2 separate regions of the Homo sapiens genome follow, and region 2 is reported to be linked to region 1. Evidence: microRNA targets listed by miRTarBase, many of them from high-throughput screens and not tested one by one. Region 1 holds a microRNA gene; the other region holds the end of a gene's coding sequence. Distances are from middle to middle.
What was found. The annotated mature microRNA hsa-miR-1976 reads CCUCCUGCCCUCCUUGCUGU and lies in region 1 at 3,399-3,418, shown strand. An mRNA with a match to its seed (bases 2 to 7 or 8) in the 3' UTR can be bound and repressed. Matches are read on the target gene's strand: a 7mer-m8 pairs with bases 2 to 8, a 7mer-A1 pairs with bases 2 to 7 and ends in A, and an 8mer does both.

Region 1 (5,310 bases):
GGCACTGCTGTGAGGGGTGGGGACAAGGAGCCAGCCAAGGAGCCAGAAACAGACTGGCAAGGAGGAAACCTGAGGATTGAGTGTCCCCAAAGCCCTGGGTGAGGGGGCTTTGGGAGCTCAGGCCTGGAGGAACAAGTGGAAAAGAGATCCCTTAGCGGGGGCTTGGGAGTGGCTGTGTTGAGTGTCTAGGCTACTGGTGACTTCCTTTCTCGTCTGGCCAGTACGTGACCGCGTCCGGACCAAGATGGAGAGAGACATCCTGGCTGATGTAAATCACCCATTCGTGGTGAAGCTGCACTATGGTAAAGCTTCTGGCCCTGCCTGAGCTCCTACCCCACCCATCCTTCGCCCTTGCCTGTGGTCTGTACACTGTCCCACCGCCTGCCTGGCAGGCCAAGGGAGCCAGGGCCGGAGAAGCAGATCATAAGGCCGCGCCGACTCTACCATTGCCTTTCTCCCTCTTCCCAGCCTTCCAGACCGAGGGCAAGCTCTATCTCATTCTGGACTTCCTGCGTGGTGGGGACCTCTTCACCCGGCTCTCAAAAGAGGTGAGCTGACATCTACTGCCAGAGGGCCCCGGGATGGAGCTGAGGGACGACAAGTCCTCCCATCCCAGGGCCCTGTACAGAATGTGTTTGGTATGGCTTGAACCTGGAACCACCCAGGCCTGCCTAGCAGCCCCTGGCCCAGGAAATACCACGCACCCTGGAATGGAGGCCATACGCTGGCAAGGTCTCTGAGAGTTTCTCCCAAGGAAACTCCAGGGAGCTAAGGGTTCCTCTCACCTCTGCACCTGCCTTCTTCCAGGGCTGCTCTGGGCAGAGGTGTGAAGATAGGGGAGAAGCCCAAAGTCACCCAGAGAGCCAGAGACTTTAGCAGTCATCTTGCGTATGTCATCCAAAAGGATTTTGAACCAATATAAAAGGATTTGAGGCTGGGCGCAGCGGCTCACGCCTGTTATCCCAGCACTTTGGGAGGCCGAGGTGGGCAGATCAGGAGGTCAGGAGATCAAGACCATCCTGCCCAACATGGTGAAACCCCGTCTCTACTAAAAATACAAAAATTAGCTGGGTATGGTGGAGTGTGCCTGTAATCCCAGCTACTCAGGAAGCGGAGGCACAAGAATCGCTTGAACCCAGGAGGCAGAGGTTGCAGTGAGCCAAGATCGCGCCACTGCACTCCAGCTTGGCAACAGAGCGAGACTCTGTCTCAAAAAAAAAAAAAAAAAAAAAAAGGATTTGAGCTAGAAAATGGGACCATTCGTACAATTCAAACTTTAAAGAGAATCTAGCTTTTTTTTTTTTTAATTGTAATTTTTTTTTTTTTTTCAGATGGAGTTTTGCTCTTGTCACCCAGGCTGGAGTGCACTGGTGGGGTCTCAGCTCACTGCAACCTCCGCCTCCCGGGTTCAAGCAATTCTCCTGCCTCAGCCTCCCGAGTAGCTGGGATGACAGGTGCACGCCACCACGCCTGGTTAATTTTTGTATTTTTGGTAGAGACAGGGTTTCTCCATGTTGGCCAGGCTGGTCTCGAACTCCTGACCTCGGGTGATCCGCCTGCCTCAGCCTCCCAAACTGCTGGCTGGGATTATAGGTGTGAGCCACCGTGCCCGGCTTAAATTGTGATTTTAATGTTTGAATAGGTAATATACATGATTCAAAAGAAAAATATTCATGAAGAAGTCTTCCTCCCACCCCAGCCCCCTCTATTCCCATCTATAGGTAAACATTTTTATTGGTTTCTTGTTTAACTTTCCCATGTTTCTTTTGCAAACAAATCCGATATATGTTCATTCCTACCCCCATTTCCTTATGTAAAAAGTACTATTCTGTATACACTGTTCTGTACCTTGCTTTTTTCAAGATAGTATATCTTGGAGCTCACTCCATGTCAGAACACGGAGAAACTCCTTGTTCCAGTTCATGGCTGCAAAGCACTCCATTATGCAGGGGAGAGGGCTGATTCCAGCCTTCTACTCTTGGACCCTAGGCCTGTTTCCCACCCCTTCTATTTCTGAATGGTGCCACAATGAGTGGCTTGCGTATTAGTCATTTCATACTTCAAATCCTTTGTATGATGAGAAGGCTATATGGCCTGGGGTTTCCAAGGGTCCTCCCAGGGTGGCTCTTCAGGACCAGGAAGCTGCTGACTGCCCAGTGCCCCAGCTCTTAAGGAAGAGGAGGTCCCTGCTGAAGGCCCCTCCTGTCTTTTGCAGGTGATGTTCACGGAGGAGGATGTGAAGTTTTACCTGGCTGAGCTGGCTCTGGGCCTGGATCACCTGCACAGCCTGGGTATCATTTACAGAGACCTCAAGCCTGAGAAGTGAGTGAAGCCTCCAGCCCCACCCCAGCCTCCCCAGGGGAGGCCTCTTCTAGGACAGGGCCATCCTGAGGTGGGTGGGCATGGCTTTCTCCAGAAACGTCTCCCTCTCTTGGGCAATCTGAGGGATGGGTGAGTGGGGTGGGTGGTAGTGCCAGCTGCCCAGTCACTAATGCTACCATTACCAAGGGCCAGGTACTTTGCATGCAGGTAATGTTGCCCGTCTTTTTTTGCTAATCTAGTGTGACATTTGAGATGCCACCTTTAGAGGTCTTTCCTTGATAAAGCCCTATAGAATTTTCCCTAATATCTAACTACCCTCAAATGATAACTAAGGAGCCAGGGGCAGGTGGTGAGTTGGAATAAGATCTGGCTTTAGTGTTAGGCAGCCCTGTATTCAAATCCTGTCTCCACCTACTAGCTAGACTTACTAGCTCAATGACTGTAGAGCTACTTAACTGCCCTGAGCCTTAGTTTTCCCATTAGCAAAACGGGGCCCTAATAGTACTTGCCTCACACAGTTGCTTCAAGGATTAGCAAAAAAGATAGGCAACACCCCTGCGTGGTACTGCTACCACCCTGCAACACCCGCCCAGTCATCAGAGAGAATTGGGTGGAGCACCTCCTCTGGGCTGAACCCAACTCCCACAGCCCTGTGGTAACACCATCACCCACACGGCCACAGCTGAGGGGCCCTGACCACTATTTCTCTATTACAGCATCCTTCTGGATGAGGAGGGCCACATCAAACTCACTGGTGAGTGGAGGGCGCCTGCCCCCTCGGGACCCAGGGGAGGACAGGACAAGGTCATGATAGGTCTCGGCTGAGTGCTGGGGGCTCATTCTTCCCGAGAAGCCGTGCCAGTTACTTGGAAGTGGTCAAAAACTCAGGCCTCAGACTTGGAACACCCTCAGCTGGAATCCCAGCCCCTCATTGTGTAACGTTGAGCAAGTCACCTGACCTCTCTGGGCCTTAGCTTCCTCCTGAGTGTCATGGGGGTGATGCCTTCTGGCCTCTGGGCACGGGGGTTGGGTGTGCAAAGGGTGGCAGCAAGGAAGGCAGGGGTCCTAAGGTGTGTCCTCCTGCCCTCCTTGCTGTAGACTTTGGCCTGAGCAAAGAGGCCATTGACCACGAGAAGAAGGCCTATTCTTTCTGCGGGACAGTGGAGTACATGGCCCCTGAGGTCGTCAACCGCCAGGGCCACTCCCATAGTGCGGACTGGTGGTCCTATGGGGTGTTGATGGTGAGTGCCCAGACAGGGGTAAAGGATCCAGCCCAAGCCTCTGGCCTCAGTCTCCCTATCTGTACAGTGAGGGGGTTGATCATTTCTAGGGCTCTCCCCGTCTCCTCTCACAGCCAAGCTGGCCTCACCCTATATGCACCTGCAGTTTTCTTCCTTGGAAGGATCCCAGGCTTGACCCCACCTGGGACGCGCCTAACCCAGTGCTGGCCTTCTCCCCAGCCTCGCGCCCCCACCGCTGCTCCTGGTGGTCTGGTTGGCAGAGGCAAGAGGGACGGGCATAATTCTTGCTCCAGGCTGACTTGGATGTATCAGCAAGAATCCTGGGACTGGGGCAGAGGGGTCTGACTGGGAGGAGGCGGGAGGTGTGTCGGAGACAGGGATCAGAGCCTGAATAGATCCTTGTCCTCTGCAGTTTGAGATGCTGACGGGCTCCCTGCCCTTCCAGGGGAAGGACCGGAAGGAGACCATGACACTGATTCTGAAGTAAGCCCCAGCCCTGCCCTGATAACAATGGACTCCTCCAAGCCCCAGCCCCAGTTTGGGGGTCAGAATATTATTACCCTGTCCCTGCCTCAGCTACCCTCTCTAATGAGACTCTCCTCTGGGTTAAACATTATACCTTCCAGAGCCCCTCTTTCATCCCTGGGGGCCTGTGGGTAGGATCCCTGAAGCCTTTGGGAAGTGAATTAGTGGATGGCTTGTCTAGACTGAGCTGGGAACTAGATCTGGACAGGGGCCGGGGGAGATGGGGCCTCTGGGGCAGGGCTCAGCCTTGATGAGTCCCGGGGGCTGTTTCAGGGCGAAGCTAGGCATGCCCCAGTTTCTGAGCACTGAAGCCCAGAGCCTCTTGCGGGCCCTGTTCAAGCGGAATCCTGCCAACCGGCTCGGTAAGCAGCCCCAGCTCAGGGGAGGGGATGTGGCGATGGGGAGCCGGGTACAGCTGCAGCCTAGGCCACAGGGCCACATCTGGGCTGAAAGGGGCCGTTGTCCTTTGTGTGGGCAGACAATGCCGCGGGCCACCCTGCTTTCTGGCTCCATGTGTGGTGTTGTGGAGGGGGGAGTTGACCTGTGTGTAGGGGGAAGGCAGGAACTGAGTCATCCCTACTCCCTCTGGGGACAAGGACAGAGGCCCCCACACAGCTTCTCCGCCAAGGCTGCTGGCACAAGAGAAATAGCATGAGCTCAGGAGTCAGAAGGCATAGGTCCCAATCCCGGCTCTGTGTCAGGTCCCCACTGCCTGGCACAAAACAGTCCCTCTATAAATATTTGTTAAACGAATGAGGCCACTTATGAACTAAGTGACCCCAGGCAGGTGACTTCACCTCTCTGCACCGCAGGTTCCTCGTCTCAATGGGAGATGATGATCCCAAGCTTGCTTCAGGGCTCTGTTGATGAAATGAGGTTGTGTGAACATGCCGGCATGTAGTAGGTGTCCAGTGTGTGCTGGCTTCCCTGGCTCCTGGGTTCATCTGGTCCATGACCAGCTGTGTAAGGTCCAGTCAAGGCCCCTGGGGTCGAATGGAGTAACAGCCTGTCCTATGGTTGAAAAGGTCAATGGGATAAGAGGAACAGAGATGAGGCTTGCCTTGGAATGAGGTGGGGCTCTCTGTAGGTCTCAGAACAAGCTCAGCTTCTGTTCTAACTGTGTGGCCTTGGAGAAGTTGCCTAAAGTCTCTGGGCCTTCCTCCTCCCACTGGTACATTGGAATTTCTTCATCAGAAGCTCCAGAAAGTGGAAAATGCTGAGT
Region 2 (5,371 bases), 17 Mb from region 1:
GAGGAGATTCAAGGGGAAGAGTCACTGTGTTTCATTATTGATTTCAGCTAAATTACTAGTTTTAAAAAAGTAAACAGAAAATATTTGTATCTAATTACACACTATGTTCCAGTGTTCTGATCACTTTTTTTTTTTTGAGGTTAACATTGTAAACTCTTTGTGGGTAGTGATGGATTGAGGGCAAATGTTTTTTTGCTCCTGCAGCCAGTTCCTCTGTCCACACCGGAATCATGCACATTCACTGGGGGGAAGGGGGACTGGAAAGTGAAGCAGACAGGAAACCTGGAGGTTCACTTGGGTCTGGACCTCCTCTTTCTTGTGAGTATCCCAGCAAAAGCCTTTCCATGCAGTCTTGATGCTTTCACCAGCCATGAGCAAACAAAATAATCATTTAAGGTGTATCTTCCCTCAAAACAGCAGGCAGGCATTGTGTTTAAGTGCCATTTGCTTCCCAAGGAAGATTCAGTTTGCATGTCCCACCCAAAGGACTCTTTATGTGGCCAATTCTATTACGTGCATTAGTTTAAGCACACCTTTATCAGCAGTATCATCCATGGATCTGTAATTCTTAAGTAAAAGGAATGAAATGGTTTGTCAGATCTTGACTTTGAAGTCAGACCATTCCACAGGCTCAGATGCCCCTCTTGCTCTGTCGTCCAGATTGGAGTAGAGTGGCACAATCCCATGGCTCACTGCAGCCTCAACCTCCTGGCCTCAAGGGATCCTCCCACCTCAGCCTCCCAAGTAGCTGGGACTACAGGTGCATGCTCAGCTAATTTTTTTGTAAAGAGAAGGTCTCCCTATGTTGCCCAGGCTGGCCTTGAACTCCTGGCCTCAAGCAATTCTCCTTCCTCAGCCTCCCAAAGTGCTGGGATTACAGGTGTGAGCTACCGCAAGGTGGCTAATGCCTGTAATCCCAGCACTTTGGGAGGCCAAGGCAGGCAGATAACTTGAGATCAGGAGTTTGAGACCAGCCTGGCCAATATGGTGAAACCCTGTCTCTACTAAAAATACAAAAATTAGCCAGGCGTGGTGGCGGGCACCTGTAATTCCAGATACTTGGGAGGCTGAGGCAGGAGAATCGCTTGAACCCAGGAGGTGGAGGTTGCAGTGAGCCGAGATCATGCCATTGCACTTCAGCCTGGGCCACAGAGCGAGACTCCGTCTCAAAAAAAAATTGTTTTAATTTAAAAAATCTTTATATTAAAAAAAGAGAAAGAAAAAAGCACAACAGGATGACTACAGTCAATAATAATTTAATCGTACTTTTGAGACAGGGTCACTCCTGTCACCCAAGCTGGACTGCAATGGTGCCATCTCAGCTCACGGCAACCTCCGCCTCCTGGGCTCAAGTCCTTCATTCTCCTGCCTCAGCCTCTGGAGTAGCTGAGACCACAAGTGCACACCACCGCACCCAGCTTTTTTTTTTTTTTTTAAATAAAGACAGGGTTTCACCATGTTGCCAGGCTGGTCTCGAACTCCTGAGCGCAAGTGATCCTCCACCTGCCTCACCCTCCCAAAGTGCTGGGATTACAAGCGTGAACCACCCAACCCCAACATTAACTGTGCATTTCAGAATAACAAGAGTGTAACTGGATTGTTTGCAACTCAATGGATACACGCTTGAAGGGATGGATACCCCATTCTTCATGATGTGCTTATTTCACGTTGCACGCCTGTATCAAAACATCTCATGTACCCCATAAATATATATACCTCCTATATACCCACAAAAATTAAGAGAAAAACCACAGGTATTTCCCATTTTTAAAGCTAATGAGCCCTTTACAGAGGAACCATCACTTCTTTCCTACTTTGGGTGCCTAAGCAGCTTGCATTTCCATGCCCTGGGGCAGGAGAAGCAGAAAACTAAAATTATAATTGGTTACTATCAAATTTATTCATTCAAGAAGGAGTGAAAACAAAGCAATTTTACACCTTCATATTAGACACAATCTTGGAAAACAGGTTTTAATATGGATATAGGAGGATGTTGCTAAGTGCCATCATCGAATATGAATATTAAAATAGGAATGTGAATATTAAAATTAGATGTTACTCTGTAATTCCAGTGCTTTGGGAGGCTGAGGAGGTAAGATCGCTTCTGGCCAGTAGTCTGAGACCAGCCTGGACAACATAGCAAAACCTCGTCTGCACAAAAAATGAAAAAACATTAGCTGGGCATGGTGGTACTTTCCTGTGGTCCAAGCTACTTGGGAGGCTGAGATGCGAGGATCCCTTGTGCCCAGGAGTTTGAGGTTACAGTGAGCTATGATCTTGCCACTGTATCCAGCTTCAGTGATCGAGTGATACCTTGTCTCAAAACAACAATAACAACAAAGGAAGGGGCGGCGCGGGCCAGGTATGGTGGCTCCCTCCTGTAATCCCAGTACTTTGGGAGGCCGAGGCGGGTAGATCACCTGAGGTCAAGAGTTTGAGACCAGCCTGGCCAACATGGTGAAACCCCATCTCTACTAAAAATACAAAATTAGCCAGGTGTGGTGGCGCATGCCTGTAGTCCCAGCTACTCAGGAGGCTAAGACAGGAGAATTGCTTGAAACCGGGAGGTGGAGGCTGTAGTGAGCCGAGATTGTGCCACTGCACTCCAGCCTGGGAGAGACAGAGCGAGACTCCATCTCAAAACAAAACAAAACAAAACTTCTGGAATAGCATTACTGTCATGTATTGTAAAGTACAGAAGCTTCACTAAAGTCACTCATTTTGACTTCTACGTAGTTGTTGGAGCAATTACACTAGAGTCAAGAACCCCAGTTAAAAGTAAACTCAATTTAAAATAACTTGGAAATATCCTCCTCTTAACCCTACCAGGGTGTCTGCAAGTAAACCTGAAACTACAGTGCATAGGTATTAGAAATGAGTATCTTTCTAGACGTTCAAATTGAAAACCAACCTTCATGTACAATATACTCAAATTCCAGTGAAAGAGCTAATGGAAGACTAGGGGTTTTACTTGCCTTCTTCTTAGTATCATCTTTTTGTTCCCTTATTAAATTTGCTTTAAAACCAAGGGGGTAACATCCTGGTTTTTTTTTTTTTTTTGAGATGGAGTCGCACTCTGTGGCCCAGGCTGGAGTGCAGTGGCGCCATCTCAGCTCACTGCAAGCTCCGCCTCCCAGGTTCACGCCATTCTCCTGCCTCAGCCTCCCGAGTAGCTGGGACTATGGGTGCCCGCCACCACGCATGGCCAATTTTTTTGTATTTTTTTAGTAGAGACGGGGTTTCACCGTGTTAGCCAGGATGGTCTCGATCTCCTGACCTCGTGATCTGCCCGCCTTGGCCTCCCAAAGTGCTGGGATTAAATTTTTTTTTTTTTTAATGTTGAACTAGGATATTTAAACAATCCCAGTGCTTTCTATCAGAATGTGAGCTCTCTGACGGGTGAGCCATAGTCCTACGTTGTGCTCCTTTTCTGCAAGAGCAGAGGTCCAAGAACAGGGCTAAAGACCTCAGTGGGAATGACTGTTCTTCATCACATTCTGGATTCACAGCCAAACAGGGTAGCTGTGCTGTCAACACACTTAACAAGGCAACTGGTCTTAACTTCCGGAACTATATCCAGGAGCCAGGCCATTGATAAAACAGTTCTTTAAAAATTCTTGCCTTTGGTTCAAAGTAGGGAGAAAAGGATAACTTCAGGAAGTTTTTTATAGCTTAAAATATTGAGTCTCAGAAAGTTATATATATTCATCTCAGCAGTCTGAACGCTTAGATGATCAATCTGCAAGTAATTGGAAATGTACAAAGAAGAAAAATTGCTGGGAAGTTTGTCCTGGTCCACACACCACCACCAAAATGTGACACAATTTTTTTTTTTTTGAGATGGAGTCTCACTCTGTCGACCAGGCTGGAGTGAAGTGACGTGATCTCAGCTCGCTGCAACCTCTGCCCCCTGGGTTTCAAGTGATTCTCCTGCCTCAGCCTCCCAAGTAGCTGGGATTACAGGCACACGTCCGGCTAATTTTTGTATTTTTAGTAGAGACAGGGTTTCGCCATGTTGGCCAGGCTGGTCTGGAACTCCTGACTTCACGTGATCCATCTGCCTCGGCCTCCCAAAGTGCTGGGATTACGGGCGTGAGCCACAGTGCCCAGCCAAAATGCGACACTTCTTCCCTGTCTAGCAGTGCAAGATCTTAAAGTCAGATTATAAAACAAGTTGTATTCTCACTTTATCATTTTTCTCTGCAGTTCTAGGGCAGGTTTATCTGAATTACTTAAGTCCTTCATAGTATAGTGAGCATAAAAGAGGACACAAGCCAAATGTATACTTAAATTAAATAGCATGATTTAATTTAGTTGGTGCTTAACCCTGAATCCTCTTAAGTTAAAAAAAAAGTTATAATTAACTATTAACGTTAATGAATTTAAACCTTCCAGAAAGCATGAATCCAAAAGGAAATGTCCAACAGGTGATATGAACCAGATATTTTATGGCCTTTCCTGTTTCAGTCTCAAACTTTCTAAACATCAATGGGGAAAAAAAATTCTCTAGAGTTTTTCAGTTTTATTCTTCTAGAGCACAATTTTCCGGCCTGTTACTGAGTACGGTCTTCTAACAGGTACACAATTAACTCATAAGTAGACAACACAATGGCAGTATTTGGGATCTGCCGGATAAGCTGGGCAAACAGTCCTCTATAAAAGGCAAGGTAGCCTTCTTCCCGGAACACCAGGCGCGCCGTCTGGACAAAAGACTTGTACTTGGTGCCCTCTTCCCGGAGCCTCGTCCTTATGACTTCTGCAGAGAGAGAAAGACCTACTTTACGCCACATATTAAATGGGGAACGAATCCACAGCACACAACTTTAAAACTGTCAAGGTTAGGCCGGGTGCGGTGGCTCACACCTGTAATCCCAGAACTTTGGGAGGCCGAGGCGGGTGGATCACTTGAGGCCAGGAGTTGGAGACCAGCCTGGCCAACATGGTGAAACCCCGTCTCTACTGAAAAACAAAAATTAGCCAGGCAAGGTGGTGCACGCCTACTACTAGAGTGGCTGAGGAATGAGGATCGCTTGAACCTGGGAGGTGAAGGTCGCAATGAGTCGGGATCGTGCCACTACACTCCAGCCTGGGCCACGGAGCAAGCAAGACTCTGTCTCAAAAAATAAATAAATAAAATAAAATTGTCAAGGTTACAACTGTGTCTATTTCCCACCTCAGCTGTATTTGGACAGGAAAGTCACATAACCTAGAGAGACAATGAAAAATTAAGTTCTTTTTAGAACCTTTTCCAACTCTAGGATTTGGTCAACTATGGACACTTACACATACACGAAAGTACAAAATAACTTTTTTTTTTTTTTTTTTGAGGCAGAGTCTCACTCTATTACTCAGGCTGGAGTGCAGTCGGTAC

Region 2: the mRNA of SLC25A33 is a reported target of hsa-miR-1976. Seed matches in the 3' UTR shown: 8mer at 3,927-3,934, 7mer-A1 at 3,269-3,275 and 8mer at 3,149-3,156.

Annotation. Positions count from the first base shown.
Region 1 is chr1:26,551,176-26,556,485 of GRCh38, forward strand. It overlaps MIR1976 (microRNA 1976), which reads left to right and starts at 3,367; the gene lies at 3,367-3,418. It overlaps RPS6KA1 (ribosomal protein S6 kinase A1), which reads left to right. Exons shown (of 22, transcript NM_002953.4): 5 at 222-302; 6 at 469-548; 7 at 2,216-2,322; 8 at 3,039-3,076; 9 at 3,421-3,563; 10 at 3,976-4,046; 11 at 4,362-4,450.
Region 2 is chr1:9,581,684-9,587,054 of GRCh38, reverse strand. SLC25A33 (solute carrier family 25 member 33) reads right to left here. Exons shown (of 7, transcript NM_032315.3): 7 at 1,882-4,756. The coding sequence ends at 4,554. Among named protein-coding and RNA genes, the nearest start is that of TMEM201, 4.5 kb to the left of the region's middle.